2 separate regions of the Homo sapiens genome follow, and region 2 is linked to region 1. Evidence: fine-mapped expression QTL. Tissue or cell type: whole blood. Region 1 holds a variant in brackets; the other region holds the start of a gene. All regions are shown on one strand. Distances are between the middles of the regions.

Region 1 (8,181 bases):
TTGGGGACTCACATGAGGTCACAGTTACATGTTGGTGTTGGTTTGGTCATATGAAGGCTTGGTGGGGGCTGGAGGATCCACTGTGAGATGGCTCAATCCCTTGGCTGGAAAGTTGGTGCTGGCTGTTGTTGGCAGGCCTTGCTTCCTCTTCACAGGGCTTCTTGAGTGTCTTCATGACATGGCGGCTGGCCTATCCCAAAATAAGCTGTCCAAGAGAGCAGGGCAGAAGTGTCCATGCCATTTATGGCCTCACCATGGAAGTCACACACAATCACTTCTGCAATATATACTGATTACCCAGATCTGCATCGTTCAGTGTGGGAGGGGACCACAAAAAGGCACAAATGCCAAAAGGCAAGGACCATTGGGGCCATTTTGGAGGCTATTTACCACAGCCCCTCTCTTCCATATTCCAGCCCACCTGCATATTCTGTTGATCCTCCTTCCAAAAATGTATCTCAAACCAAATGACTAATTTTCATTTCTGTTGGCTCTAGCCTAGTCCAAGACTCTATCAACACTTGACTTGAAGAGTCTCCCGTCTGATATTCCTCTTTCTGCTCTTGCCCCCCTTCAAGGTATTTCTCCCAGAGAAGCCATTCATCATGCATTCATTATTCTCCATTCATTAATTCAACAAATATTTATTGTACGCTTACCACATGCCAGATTTATTTTAGGTTCTTGGGATATAGCAGTGAAAAGTCCTTGGGCTTTACATACAGTGGGAAAATAAATAATATGGAAAATGTTAAAGGCAACATATGTGATCCAGAAAATTATAGCACGGTGAAGGAAATAGGAAACAATAGAAAAGTTAGGGACTTCTGGCTATAGTATTATATAGGGCTGTCAAGGGTGCTATCTCTGATTAGCTTACATTGAAACAGAAACCCAAAAGACAGTAGAGGGCAGGTATGTTAATATCTGGGCAAGTATTCTAAGCAGAGGAAAAAGAAAATGCAAGGGCCCTGAGGCAGGATCGTGTTTGGTATGTTTGAGGAATAGCTGTTCTGTTCCGTTGTGGCTGGAACAGAAGGAGGAGGGCGGGAGGGGAGGGTGATGGAGAATGGTACATGATGGAGGTCAGATTATGTAGGGCCTTGTAGACTACAATGAAGACTTTGGCTTTGTTTTGGGTTGGTGGGGGACAAGGAAAGCTATTGGAATGTTTTAGTGACTTGATGTGACTTACTTTTTAATAGGAACATTTGGGCTGCTCAGCCCATGATGTTTAAAAATGCCATCAGGTCACTTCCACTGTTTAAAACCTTTCAATGGATTCTGGTTGTACTTAGAATAAAATCTAAGCTCCCTTAGCTATTATTATTATCTCATTATTAAAATTGACATCCTTTATTCTCTATTACAGCAGTCTAATTCCTTCCTAATATGTACCTCACTAGTAACTATTATTATTATTGCTTATTTGTTTATAATCTGTCTCCTCTACTTGAAAATATGTAGCCTGGGGATCTTGTGGATTTCCATACTAAATCATCCCAAGGCCACTTTGCTTTTGAGCTCTGTGTGTGTGTGTGTGTGTGTGTTTTGATCTCTTCTGTAATTTTTTTTCCCCTGATCTCGCTGATTGTTATATTTGGTCAGTGACTGACCTCTAGCAATGATGGTGCCAGGGCAACTTTGTTGTTGAACTGTATGTTAAGGTTTGTTTTGGCTTGTTGGTTATATCAGTACTTATCAAATGAATTATCTGGGAAGAGAGGAGAGGATCTTATTAAAATACAGGTTCTTATTCAGTAGGCCTTGGGTGGGGCTTGAGGTTCTGCATTTCTTTCTTTCTCTTTCTTTCTTTTTCTTTCTATTTCTTTCTTTCTCTTTTTTCTTTCTCTTTCTTTCTTTTTCTTTTTTCTTTCTTTCTCTTTCTTTCTTTCTCTCTTTCTTTCTTTCCTTCCTTTCTTTCTTTCTTTCTTTCCTTCCTTCCTTTCTTTCCTTCCTTCCTTCCTTTCCTTCCTTCCTTCCTTCCTTCCTTTCCTTCCTTCCTTCCTTCCTTCAGACAGAGTCTCACTCTGTAGCCCAGGCTGGAGTGCCGTGGTGCCATCTTAGCTCACTGCAACCTCTGCCTCCCAGGTTCAAGCAATTCTCCCACCTCAGCCTCCGGAGTAGCTGGGACTACAGGCGTGCACCACCATGCTCAGCTAATTTTTGTATTTTTAGTAGAAATAGGGTTTCACCACATTGACCAGGCTGGTCTCGAACTCTGGAGCTCAAGTGATCTGCCCACCTCAGCCTCCCAAAGTGCTGGGATTTCAGGTGGAGCCACCATGCCCAGCTGAGGTTCTGCATTTCTATCAAGCTTGCAGGTGATGCCCATGCTGCCAGCCCTTTGAGTAACAAGGGGGCTTTATTACTGAGCTTGGCTGAACATTGGAATCATCTGTGGAGCTTTAAAACTACTAATGCTGGGCTCTCAACCCCAGAGATTGCAATATCATCAGTCTAGAATGCAGTTTGAGTACTAGGATTTTGAAAAGCTTCATAAGTGATTCTATTTTGTAGAAATATTGAGAACTACTAGATTGGATGATATTGAATCCAATTTTAAAACAAGATGTAGCAATAAATGTTCTTCAGCGCTGTGTTGCTGACTTTTTAGAAAGTCAGTTTTGTAGCTCTAGAAAGAATCTGGCTGCATCCATGGATGACCTCCAGATCTCTGCTTAGCATGACTGGGTAATTTCTCCAATGTCTCCAGCACATGCTGTCACTTAACAGCAGAAAGAGAATTCCTACTTTCAGGAGAAAAGTCATTCCTGAAGATTACAGTTAAAATATGCCTACAGATGATGAGGTTGTAGTAAATCAGTCCCCTTGCTCTCTGAGCTTGTTCTAAGTTACAGGAAGCAGAAGAAGCAGAGAAGCACTCCATTTCTTTTTTCTTGTAATCTCTAGCATGTTCACATGCATAGTTTCTGAGTCAGTAGCAAACTAAGAACTTCTTGTGTGATTCAAGCTAACTCCTCGATTATCAGAAGCAGATGTTTCAAACGACTGAAGATCAGTGAGGCATATCCTATTTACAGGTTAATAATTGACTGCTAGATGCAGGTGCACCAAATGGTCTTAGAGACATTAGATAGGAGAGACAATGTCAGTGCTCCCCCTACCCTGCCTCCCCTAATCTAAAGCCTACTCTGTTTCTTTTATCAAGTGATTGGCTGTATGTTAACAGAGCCTGGGGCACTTTCCTGTTGAAATGCCTTTAATCCCAAGCAACTGGATTGATTTTTTTTTTTTTTTGGATGGTTTAGATTGGACGACTGATTATTGGACAGAATGGCGTCTTGTCGACACCTGCGGTCTCCTGCATTATCAGGAAGATCAAGGCAGCTGGTGGAATCATTCTAACAGCCAGCCACTGCCCTGGAGGACCAGGGGGAGAGT[T/C]TGGAGTGAAGTTTAATGTTGCCAATGGAGGTATGTGGTTCAGTATATGCCTTAATAATCACGATTCCTTTCCTCTTATATTATTATAGTCTCACAGTGACCCTTTGATGATAGACAAGCAAGGTGCAGAGGACCTAGCTCAGAAAAATTTAGTGAGGTGCCCAAAGTGATCCAACAAAGAAGTGGCATGATGGGCTCATGAACCCATTTGGGTGGTCTCTTGGTCCCCTGTACTCTTCAGCATAAACTATTGAATAGTTGATGCTTATCTGATATGGAAGGACTCTGAATTTTAACATTAAAACATACCCTGAAGGTCGTTGTCTAAATGACAATGACCCTCATTTTACACATCAACAAATCAAAGGCCTGACAGGCTCAGTTACTGCTGAAGGCCACAGGGTTGATCAGGGTCAGATTAATGATTTTTAGCCCAAATCCTGGGCTCTCTTTTTCCTACAGTGTTGACTTTCTCTCAAAATCATAGAATTGTTTCACTTTTTCTTATATTCACAGCAATTTATAGTTTGGGGGTCCTTAGTGGAGGGGGTGGGATATATGTATGGAGTAAATTTCTTTTAAAAATTGAACACACAAAAAAATAGGGAGAATAAGAAATAGATAACATGTACCCATTATCTTGTTTTTCTATTTTGCTTATCTTTTTTTTTCTGAAGAATTTTAAAGCAAATTATAGCACGAGAACATTTCACACCCAAATATTTTTGTATGCATCTCTTAAAAAGAAAGACACGTTGCTGCATGACCGTGCTAACATACCTAACAATAATAACATTAATTCTCCAATATCACCTGAAAACTAATCTATAGTCAAATTTTTCAATAATCCCCAAAATATTATTATTTATAGCTGTTTTATTCAAATCAGGATACATCTAAGGATGCCATGCATTTGCTTGGCAAGTCTCTTAAATCTCTTTTAATCTAGAATGCTGAGTTTGCATGAATGTGGGTAGGAGCCAAATTTTAACCAGCAACAGTTACCATTATAAATTATTCCTCATCCCAGGCAAAGCAGTGCATTCTGAAGGGAAAACTTATTATCTATCCCTCCTTGTAGACGTTTTACACGTTATCCAAACAAGAAAGTGTATTCATGTTGAATATTTAAAAAACAATATTGTAACCACAAAGCAGAAAACTAAACCACCAAACCACAAAGGTAGACAACAATAGAGGAAGAAGAGAACAAATTATCTACAAAGTAACCAGAAAACAATTAGCAAAATGGCAGGAGTAAGTCTTTTACTATCAATAATAACCTTGCTGGTACATGGGTTAAACTGTCCAATCAAAAGATATAGAATGGCTGAGTGGATCAACAACAAGATCCAACTAGATGCTGCCTACAAGAGACCCATTTTTAAACTTTAAGAATAGGCATATACTGAAAGTAAAGGGATAGAAGGAGATATTCCATGAAAACAGACAGTTACCAAAAGAGAGCAGGGATGCCTATACTTATAGCAGATAAAACAGACTTCCAGTAAAAAGCTGTTCCAAGAGACAAAGAAGGTCATGATTTAATGATAAAGAGGTCATCTTATCAAGAGGACATAACAATTGTAAACATATATGCATCCAAAATTGAAGCACTTAAATATGTAAAGCAAATATTAGTGGACATGAAGGAAGAAATATACAGCAATATAACACTAATAGGGGACTTCAGTACTCCACTTGCAACAATGGAGAGATCAACCAGACAAAAAATTAACAAGACAACACTAAATTTGAACTATACTTCAGACCATATGGACCTACCAGACCTACATTCATCCAACAACAGCAGAATATACATTCTTCTCTAGCATACATAGAACATTCTCCAGGATAGACCATATGTTAGGCCACAAAATAAACCTTAACAAATTCAAAAAGGTTGAAATCACTTCTAGTATTGTTTCCAACCACAATGGTGTGAAGCTAAAAATCAATAACGGGAGGAATCTTGGAAAATTTACAAATATGTGGAAACTAAACAACATGCTTATGATGAACTAACGGGTCAAAGAAGAAATCAAGAGGGAAATTAAAAAATATTTTGAGATTAATGACAATGGAAACACAATGTATCAAAACCTACAGTATGCAGCAAAGTCAGTTCTAAGAGAGAAGTTTATAGCAATAAATGCCTAGATTAAAAAAGGAAAAAGATCTAAATAAGTAGACTAACACTATGCCCCAGGGAGCTAAAGAAAGAACAAACTAAACCCAAAGTGAGCAAAAGGAAGGAAATAATGAAGATCAGAACAAAAGCAAACAAAATGTAGTATAGTAAAACTATAGAAAATATAAATAAAATCAAAAGTTGGTTCTTTGAAAAAATAAAATCTACAAACTCCTAGCTAGATTCACTAAAAAAAGCAGACTCAAATAAAATCAGAAATGAAAGTGGAGACATTGCAATAGATACCTCAGAAATAAAAATGCTCATAAGGGATTATTATGAACAATTTTATGCCAACAAATTGGAGGACCTAGAAGAAATGGATAACTTTGCTGCTACTCAGATACATTTTATTTCAAAAACATACACTAAGGTGTTGCTGTTGGATCTTTCCAAAAACATATTCACACAGAACTTTCAGTCACACTGAGCCATATTTGAACAATCTTTCAAGGTCAGCTCTGGCATAAGCTAACATTATACCATTTAACTCAGAAATTTCTTTAGTATTTGATTAATGGGTTTATGTTTGATATGTAATGTAATTTTCTAATGCTAAATCAAGTGGTAATTTTGTTAGTCAAGTTGATTTAGTGGCTTGGGAAGAAAGCTTTTAATGTTCCCCTAATTTTTCTTACCTTTGACATGATCCTTCACATGTCTTATTTTGCTTAGTGATTTTTCTTTTTTTTTTTTTTTTTTGAGACAGGGTCTTACTCTACCACCCAGGCTTGAGTGCAGTGGTGCGATCACAGCTCATTGCAGCCTTGACCTCCCAGACTCAAGCTATTCTTCCACCTCAGCCTCCCAAGTAGCTGGTACTACAGGCACATGCCACCAAACTTGGCTAATTTTTGTATTTTTTGTAGAGACAGAGTTTTGCCAAATTCTCAGGCTGGTCTGGAATTTCTGGGCTCAAGTAATCCTGCCTTGGCCTCCCAACATGCTGATATTACAGACATAAGCCACAGTACCTGGCCAGTTTTCTTTTTTAAAAAATCTATTGGTTATTAATTTGAAGCCTTCCTTTTCATAGCTGTGCTCCTTAATTGGGAGCAAACATGAATGGACCACAACGTAGCCAATTTTCTATATACGATCTTTGCCATCCTAATTTAAAGGAATATTAATTCTTTCTTTTCCTCTTTCATTCCACAAACCTGTATTGACTACATCTAAGTTCTAAATGGTGCACTGGATGTTGAAAAAGTTGATGATGAGCAAGAACAAAATTCCTGCTTTCAGGAGACTTACAGTTCAATATGGGAAATGTAATTTGTTAAAATATAAAAGTGCAATTGTGTTACATGCTGTACGAAGTACATGTTGACATGTGAGTATATAATAAATGGGCTGGAGGCCAGAGGATTGCCAAACAGAATGGGCCTCCTGCTGAGATGAAAAGTTGAGCAGGGATTAGTTGGCGAAAGTGGAGGGACGACCCTTTCTAGGCAGGAGGAAGAACATGTACAGAATCTCTGAGGTGTGATGCAACAAAGTCGATATAAAAACTGAAGAAAGGTCTAATGTGGCTTAAATACAGAAGCCAGTAGGAGAGGAGTCGAAAAGAGGCTGGAGAAGTAGAAAGTGTCTGCATTCTGCAGGAACTTATATTGTATAAAAAGAATTTCTCTTTATTCTAAGTGCAATGTGAGTCATAGAACCCCACCCCTGAGGACTTTTGCAGTTTAAATAGCAATCTTGAGTAGTTTTCAAGTTTTTATTTTTTATCATTCTTCAGAATTCCTTTATTAAATAAACTCTTACATGAAACTCGAGATGGATGCATAGGTGGGTGGGCAGATGGATGGATGTATGGGTGGATGTTTGGATGAATGGGTGGGTGAATGGATGGGTTGGTGGGAGGGAGGGAGGTAAAACAATGGGAATAGTGTAGTTAAGCAGACACACCCTAGAGCCAGACTACAAAGGCTCGAATCCTTGCCTTGTCATTTACTAGCTGTGTGACCTTGAGTAGTCACTTAGACATTCAGCACTTCAGTTTCTCATCTGATGATGGGCATAGAAGTTGAAACCCATCTCATAGGAATATCGTGACTACTGCATGAGTGAATGTATGTGAAGCATTTATGATGGCACCTGGGGCAGTGGGTACTCTGTAAATGTTTCCTATTATTATTATTTGAGACGGAGCCTCACTCTGTTGCCAGGCTGGAGTGCAGTGGTGCGATCTTGGCTCATGCAACCTCCACCTCCCAGGTTCAGGTGATTCTCCTGCCTCAGCCTCCCAAGTAGCTGGGAGTACAGGCACACGCCACCATGCCCAGCTAATTTTTGTATTTTTAGTAGAGACAGGGTTTCACCATGTTGGCCAGGATTGTCTCGATCTCCTGACCTTGTGATCCACCCCCCTTGGCTTCCCAAAGTGCTGGGATTACAGGCGTGAGCCACCGCACCCGGCCTCCTGTTATTATTATTACTGCTGACTGAAGCTGGGGAGAATCTCCCCTGTCCCAACCAGTGCAATTCCTGAGACATCAGAGCTCCTGGGAAACATTGCTTTTAGGCCACTTAACTAGTTCCTTTTCTTATTTAATGGAGCAGATAATGAGGCCCAGAGAGAA
Region 2 (8,181 bases), 23 kb after region 1:
CAACCCACATGGCACAACACGAGGGCTAAGCTGTCTGGTCTGTCGGGTGAAGCTTCAAATGCTGTTCATTTCCGATAAGGGGAGGTTCCTGGGCTGCAGAGGCTTCCTAGAGGAGGAAGACCATGTAAGGTCTAACTCAGGGCAGGTCAGGATGGTGTGAACTCACTCTGAACACAGTCACCGATGGGTGTTTAGGAAAATTGGCTCTGGAACTCCCACAGGGAAGGTTCTTATCTTTGCGTGCACAACACAGAGCCCTCTGGGTAGACTTCTAGACCCAGGCCTCTTTCAAATACATTAGAAACCTCAGCAAGATAAACTATTTTCTGTCTGGCTGCATCTGTCTATCTGTTTAGAGAGCAGGACATTTCCATCCTCCTCTCTCCAGGCATCCTTGGAAGTCTTTCCCACAAGCAAGACATCTTGGTGAAATTTAATGCTGCGGAGGGAAGTGGTTTTCAGGAGAGAGGAGTCTGTTCCCAGAACTGTAGCACAAAAGCTAGAGGCTGAGTAGGAACATCTTAAACTAAGTCCTCAGTCTTATTTCCAGTTTTCTTCCTGTAGATCGGGGCTTAGGACACCCTGTCACATTTTCTTCACTCCTCCACCAGGAATTCCTAAAGTCCATGCTCTTGGATCCTGGCAAATCCAGGAGGCTGGGGGATGTGGCAAGCTTCAGCAAGACTGCCTGGGACCAACCCTGCAGCCTTAATTCCCAGGCCCGCTCAGCCCAGCTGGCCAGCAAAGGCAGGCAGAGCTTCTGTGTCCACACATGAGAATGACCTGCAGCTGTTCTTTGTCCAGGCTGAGGTCCAGGATTCCCATTGCAGCTCCTAGGAAATCTTTAAAATTAGGTCGGGGATGAGCCTGTCAGTAGATTAGGTAGGGAACTTTTATGAAGTTGAGGGTGAACCATCTGGAGGGTGAACTGGCTGGTGTGATTCTAGAACTGGGGGTGGTGCCTAGCAGTGCATTTGTGAGAAGACACAGCCAGGCTTGGTATATGATGTGGTGTGTGTGTATATTCACAGGCATCGTGGAGCATATACACTTTTTTTGTGTGTGTTGAAATAAACCTTACAGATTACAAAGTACTTTTTTTTTTTTTTCTGAGACAGGGTCTCTCTCTGTCGCCCAGCCTGGAGTGCAGTGGTACAATCATAGCTCACTGCAGCCTCGATCTCCCAAGCTCAAGTGATCCTCCCGCCTCAGCCTCCCATGTAGCTGGGACTACAGGTGTGTGACACCATGACTGGCTATTTTATTTTATTTTTGTAGAGATGGAATCTCACAATATTGCCCAGGCTGATCTCAAACTCTTGGGCTCAAGCAGTCCTCTCGCGTCAGCCTACCAAAGTGCTAGGATTACAGGCATGAGCCACCACGCCCAGCCAGATTACAAAATACTTTGACATCTTTTCTCTACAGCCCTCAAAAGGAGGCAGGGCAAGCACAATTAAATCCCATTACAAATGGGGTGACTGAAGCTCCATTCATGGCTTGCCCAGGGTCACACAAAGAATGAATAGCAGATCCCTGAGCCTGTGTGCTTCCCTCTGTGCCAGGCTGCTTTACCCAGGCATGGGTGCACGTTGTGCATGGGACATTTCTCCTTTGTTGTGTCCTGAGTACCTTAAGCCACTCAGATATTGCTCAGGTGGAGTGAGGGGAAAATGTTTTCAGGTTGTATTAGTCAAAACAAAATACCACACACTGGGCGACTTTAAAATCATACATTTATCCCTCACAGTTCTGGAGGCTTGGAAGTCCAAGTTCAAGGTGGCAGCTGGACAGGTTCCTGGTGAGGGCTCTCTTCCTGGTTTGCAGACAGCCACCTTCTCTTCGCATCCTCACTTGGTGGGAAAAGACAGAGGAGAGAAAGAGAGAGAGAGAAAAATGAGATAGAGAGAGAGAGAGAAATGAGATAGAGAGAAATGAGAGAGAGAGAGAGAGAGAGAGAGAGAGGGAGACACAGAGACAATGCTCTCTTTTCTTACCAGATCTATAATGAGGGCCCCACCCCATGACCTCATCTAACCGTAATTACCTACCAAAGGCCCATCTCCACATACCATCACATTAGGGGTTAGGGTTTCAACATAAGCATTTGGAGAGGACATAAACATTCTGTCTACAACATGAGTGGAGATCCATCTCTTCTTTACCTCTGGTAAGGGGACCACACGCTGCAGCCAGCGAGACAGTGGCATGTTCTTGTTACAACTCGATCTAACTCCCCCAGAAGAGGAGGCAGGGAAGGCGGACAAAACTGGGAGAGGGAGAGAGTGTTAGGAAGAGAGTAGGGTGGCCAGAGGCAGCAAATAAAATATAAAATGCTTAATTCTGAATCTCAGATAAACAACCAATAATGTTTTTTAGCATAAGTATGTCCCAAACTAAGCTTGGGACATATTTATGCTACGAAATTATTCGTTGTTTATCTAAAATTCAAACTAGCTGGGCATCCTGTCTTTTAATCTGGCAACCCTAAAAGGCAAGGGCCAAAAATGCCGGAGGCAAGCCAACGGATTCCAGGAGGGACAACTGCTGGACTTTGGACTGATGATGCTCTTTTTATATATTTAACTTTTTAAAAAAGCCTCTTTTCTTTCTTTTTACCAGCTTTTCACTAGCTTTTTAAAAATTGTGGTAAAACATACATAACCTAAAATTCACCGTCTAAACCATTTTTCAGCATACAGTTCAGTGGGATTAAGTAGATTCACACCGTTGTGCCGCCATCACTACCACTCATTTCCAGCACCCTTCCATCACCCCAGCCTGAAACTCTACCCATTGAACACGAGCTGCCCAACTCCGCCTTGCTTCCCCATTCCTGGCGACCACTGCTTCTGTCTCTGTGAATTTTGACTATTCTAGGCACTTCACAAAACTGGACTCATACGATATCTGTAGTTTTGCGTCTGGCTTCTCTATTGAATTCTTAAAGGGGGGTGGGAACTAAGCAGATCACAAGGGAGCTGCCCACAGAGGTAAAGACAAGGTCAGGTAGGCTGAGAGACGCAGGAAAGCGGGTCAAGGCGTAGGGCTGGAGGGCAGGGGCGGGCCCTGGGCGTGGGCTGGGGGTCCTGCCCCGGGGCGCACCCCGGGCGAGGGCTGCCCGGAGGAGCCGAGGTTGGCGGACAGCTTGGCCCTGAGCTTGAGGGGAAGGCAGCGATGGGACAAAGGACGGAGGTCTAGGAAGAGGGTCTGCAGAGCAGAAAGCACGGGTAGGGGCGGCCTGACGCTCGGAAGACAACGGATGGGAGCCGTGTGCACGTCGGGAGCTCGGAGTGAGCGTGAGTTCCGTGCCCAGGCCCGCGACTCGGCCCGACAGGACAGCGCTCCGGGTCGACGGGGTCCTGGAGCCGCGCTCGGGGAGGCGTCTTGGGCTCGCCCCGGAGCTTCCTCCCTGGAGCCGCGCCCTGCACCCGGCCTTGCCCGGCCCTAGCAGGGAAGCCAAGGCTTGTGGGGCGCAGGGACCCGGGCTCTGCGGGGTCCCGGTTCCGCCTCCCCACTCCTGCGTCTTCCCGCCCCTGCCGGGTTCTGGGAAGCCTCGCGCGGCTCTTCCGCAGCTGCTGCCCGCCCGGAGCTCCTGGTCCCTCGTAGGGGACCCCACTTCTCTGACACCGCTTTGGGTTCCCGGGGCCTACAGCGAGGCTTGTAACTCCGGGAGAGACCCTGGAGCGGGGTGTGGGAGAACGGTCTGGAGGAAGGGCTCCGAGCACTTCGAAAGTATAAACCGCGGTCCCAAAGAGGCGTGCTGTGTCTGCATTTTCCTGGGAGTGCACGGTTTACATTCTCGAAAGCAGTGCTGTCGACTAGAAATATTGAGCGATACACATGTACAAGTTTTGTCACTTAAAAAGAATTTGAAAAAACTTCATAGATGCAAAAAAAAAAAAAAACCCACCATTATTAAAGAATACTTAGGTATTTGTGGAATGCATTGAAGAGTTAACAAAATGGATAGGCAGGAAATATCGCAGACCTAGAATGAATTACAGTTACCCACTGTGGAACTGAGGAGCTAGGGTTTCTCATAAAACTCCCTGATAGAAGACGACTTTTGATAAAATTTTTTTTCCGCCAACAAAATCCCCTGTCTTCTCAACTAGTTACTGTCTGTCCACTAAATAAGAGGTGGTCCGTCACTTCTTCAGATGAGCAACTACAGGCTTTTCAAAAGATAATTGCTAATCAACCCCTTTGTGCCTGGGTTTTCTTATTTGTAAAAATAGATACTACTACCTAACTCCAAAGTGTGTGGTGAAGACAAACAATTGGGGTGATGTATACTAAAGTAACGAAAGTGTTGACCACACACTACGGGCTGGTTAGTGTTAGATTCCCTTGTTTTTCCCTCAGTATCAAAAACAGATCTAATTTAGGTTTACATAAAGACAAAGTATGAAGATAAGGTGACTTACAGTTGGTACTACTAACAAAATGTTTGGGCTAATATTTGCATTATTGCATGAAAACAACAAAACATATCAATAAATAACAAAAAGCTTGGAATTCAGACGACAGATCCAAGTCTGGGCTTGATCTCAAGCTAGTGTTTTGATGTTGAAAAAATGTTATTTGGTCTTTCTAACCCCATTTCCTTATGTAAAATAGGGGATGATGATAAATTCACTGATAATAAGAGTTAAATGAGATTCTTGAGGAGTCAGAATGGTTCTAACATGTGTAGGTATTATTAGCAGTCATACTGTAGCATAAGAAAATACCGTCTGCTGAAAGAGGGACAATAAAGATTATCTACATGGTCATCATTTAAAAGCTACCAGATATAGGAAGAAGGGGCCATAAAATGATAACGTTATGATGATTAATTTTGATGCTTAGGTCAGAGTCCATTCTAGGATATCTGCTGCCCAAAAACAGCAGAGACTCATTTCTTTGGAATCACAGGACGCTGAGTGAGAGGAAAGAAAAAGAAAAGAAATATTTAAGTCACATATGTGATTTCTAAAAGTAAAAAGAAACAGATGAAATTAGTGATATATTTTTAAAATCCAGTATATCCCAAATATGGTTATTTTAGCATGTAATCAATATAAAATAATAAGATATTTTACATTCTTTTTTTCTAGCCTTTGAAATTTGGTGCATATTTTACACTTATGGCACATCTCAATTCAGACTATCCACATTTCAAGTGCTCAGTGGCTGCATGTGCCTGGTGGCTACCATATTGGACAGCACAGGTCTAAGGATTTCATTCCTGCCACAAGTCCAAACTCCTAGCTTTAATTTTGAGTGTTTTTAACAAACTGGCCTCTGTTTATCATTCTTTCTTCTAGTACTTCCCCAAGGATGATTGTACCCTCAGCACTCAAGACCGCTTGCGGTTCCCCTACACACTTTTTGTTCAAGCTGTTTCTTTTACCTGGAATGCTGTCTTTGCACCTTCTTCCTGGACCTGGTTCACCCTCGTTGCCTAGGCTGGAGTGCCATGGCGCGATCTTGGCACACTGCAACCTCCACCTTCCCGGTTCAAGTGATTCTCCTTCCTCAGCCTCCCGAGTAGCGGGGATTACAGGCCTGCACCACCACGCCTGGCTAATTTTGTATTTTTAGTAGAGATGGAGTTTCACCATGTTGGTCAGACTGGTCTCGAACTCCCGACCTCAGGTGATCTGCCTGCCTTCGCCTCCCAAAGTGCTGGGATTACAGGCGTGAGCCGCTGCGCCCGGCCGAGAGGCACACATTCTGCTAAGAGCTTTTTCCTGACTCCCCTAACTCCAAGAGGGATTTGTCACTCCTTAGCTTTGTACCCATGACTGGAGTAGAATGAATTTAATTTGAGTTTAGTTGTTTTTGAGACTCTCCCTGGCTAGTGTAGTGTCTTATTCGTCTTTGTTGTGATCATGGCCTGCACCTAACAGATGATCAGTAGATGTTTGCAGACAGAAAGTAAACCACTCATCAGGTGTATTCAGTCCCATTCTTGAACGGGCTTGCTGCCTCCTTTTTGAGGAGATCTGTGTATGTACTCTTCTTTCACGCATATGTGTGAGCAAACACACACACACTAACAAGAAATTCATCTGAAGATGTGCACAGGAAATATCTTGCATCTTTACCCCCTTTGTGATCTTACATATGGGAGAACTGAGGCACAGAAATAAGTTAGGACAGCCAGCAAACTTGCATCAGTATAAATACAAAGAAGGGGAGGGAGGAACATGCTTGAAAGGGGTGTGCTGGTCTCAGAGGGTTGGGTTTCTCAGTTGGCTGGGCATCAGCTGGCCATGCTTTAGTTATTTGATGGGAGGAAAAATAAGTGGGAGGTGAGGAGTAACTCCTGGGCTCTGATGAGTATTCAAGGCAAGTACAGATCTGGAAAGCCTGTATGCAAAGGAGGAACTCACTGAAAAGTGCTGGCCTGAGGAGGGCAGAAGGGAGGGCTGGGGAAGCCAGCAGCGGGAGCAAAGGAGTAGGCTCCAACTGGGTGAAGATGTTGGTGTGGTGCGTTATGTAAAATATACAAATTATTATTGGAAATAACCACGTCTCAGCAGTGCTAGTTCTCAGTTTGGAGAATGGGAAATCGAAAGGATCAGATTCAGAGACGGCAACTTACTCAAGGTCACAGCATTTTAAACCCAAGTGAAATCTCCTAGGCCCTTCATGCCACACTCATCCATCCATACCTACTTGTGTTGCAACCAAGGGCCCCACTGTAGTGCCTAGGGGAGCAGGTCTAGGGCACAGTGCCAGGCCTGATTAATGTCTTCCTTACCATTTTCCAGTGAGGGGCTGTGATTAGGCCTATTTATAGGGGCCTGGTCCCTTAATATTCTGCCTGGTGCATCTCTTGCCAATCAAATCAGTGCTGTCTGCAGTGTGATTGCTGCTTTAGTGGCACCAGGGAGAGGAGTTAATTAAACCCAATATAAATAGACTCTGCCCTCACTTTGCAATTCCAGGAGTGTTTTTCCTTCCTGTCCTCCACCCCCACAGGCACCTCTTTCCTCTTGTCCCCCTAAGCTCTAGCCTGGGTGAGCAGGGCTGGATACTCCTATACCTAGAGTCACTAGCCACTGCCCAGTCTGTTTCAGGAGCAGGCCTCAGATTCCTCAGGGGTTAAAGTGGGAAGAACCCGTGTGTGCACATTTTTTGTGCTTTTCCAGAACTGTGTACCATTTGGCAGTTGATCAGGCAATCTCCCCTGCTACCCCATTTCTACCCCTTTGTTTCCAGCCTCTTTTTTCCTCTGCAACCAAGGTTTCTTGTTTATCCAAGGTGGGGAGCTGAACTGAGACAAGGTATGGAAAGGGTGCCTGGCAGGTAGCAAGCACCTTGTAGGGGGTCAGAAATGTTGCACCTTCTCTGAACTCCTCCATTGACCCTACAGATTCCCCAGTCCCGGGCCCTGCCCTTTCCCTCATTCACTCAGCAGGCATCAGCAGAGTCCCATCTATGCGCTCCTGGCCTCTCAGCAAATGCTCTGTCCCCTACTCCCCTATCTGTGCAGGCTGAAGCTATGTGCATAGTTGGGATGAGGGCTGTGTTGTCTCAACACCACGCTGCCCTGTGGTGGGGGCGTGCCGTTGGTCGTGGGTGGCTCTGACGCTCCGGCTCCGACCCACAGGCACCATGACTCCTGTGAGGATGCAGCACTCCCTGGCAGGTCAGACCTATGCCGTGCCCTTCATCCAGCCAGACCTGCGGCGAGAGGAGGCCGTCCAGCAGATGGCGGATGCCCTGCAGTACCTGCAGAAGGTCTCTGGAGACATCTTCAGCAGGTGGGTGCTGCCACTCACCCCCACCTGATGAGAGGGCCATCCCTGTCCTGGGCAATCCCAGCAACACACCCTCTGGGAGCAGCCCCCTTGGGGAATCCCGGTCCTGGGGAACCCATCTGGCTTCCCTGTGTGGGAGGGGCTGAAGTGAGAGCCCAACTTGGAAGCTTTTACTCCTGGGAGTCCGAGAGCTCACTCCCTTCCACCCCACTTAGCCTCCTGGTTTCCTGTGGTGGCTCTGCTCTCACAACTCATGCTTTTCCTCCCATTGGAGGGCCTATTCCTTCACGTTTTCCTGCAGCCAACAAATATTTACCCAGCAGTGCTCGTGTGCAAGGCAGTGTGGGAATCTCTATATATCCAGCCACGGATAAGGCAACATACCTCTCCACCTGGAGCGCACATTCTGGCAGGAGAGAAAGAC

The links. PIP is the estimated chance that this variant, and not a neighbour inherited with it, causes the effect.
Region 2: WASHC1 starts here. The variant in region 1 is fine-mapped to the expression of WASHC1 in whole blood (GTEx, PIP 0.97).

The regions. Positions count from the first base shown.
Region 1 is chr9:47,706-55,886 of GRCh38, reverse strand. No RefSeq gene overlaps it. Among named protein-coding and RNA genes, the nearest start is that of FAM138C, 16 kb to the right of the region's middle. The variant T/C (reference allele first, on the strand shown) is at 3,406.
Region 2 is chr9:24,430-32,610 of GRCh38, reverse strand. It overlaps WASHC1 (WASH complex subunit 1), which reads left to right and starts at 3,155. Exons shown (of 11, transcript NM_001378090.1): 1 at 3,155-3,299; 2 at 7,607-7,760. The coding sequence starts at 7,612. MIR1302-9HG (MIR1302-9 host gene) reads right to left here and starts at 2,952. Exons shown (of 3, transcript NR_197460.1): 1 at 2,729-2,952; 2 at 2,166-2,269; 3 at 1,720-1,853. MIR1302-9 (microRNA 1302-9) reads right to left here and starts at 2,467; the gene lies at 2,330-2,467.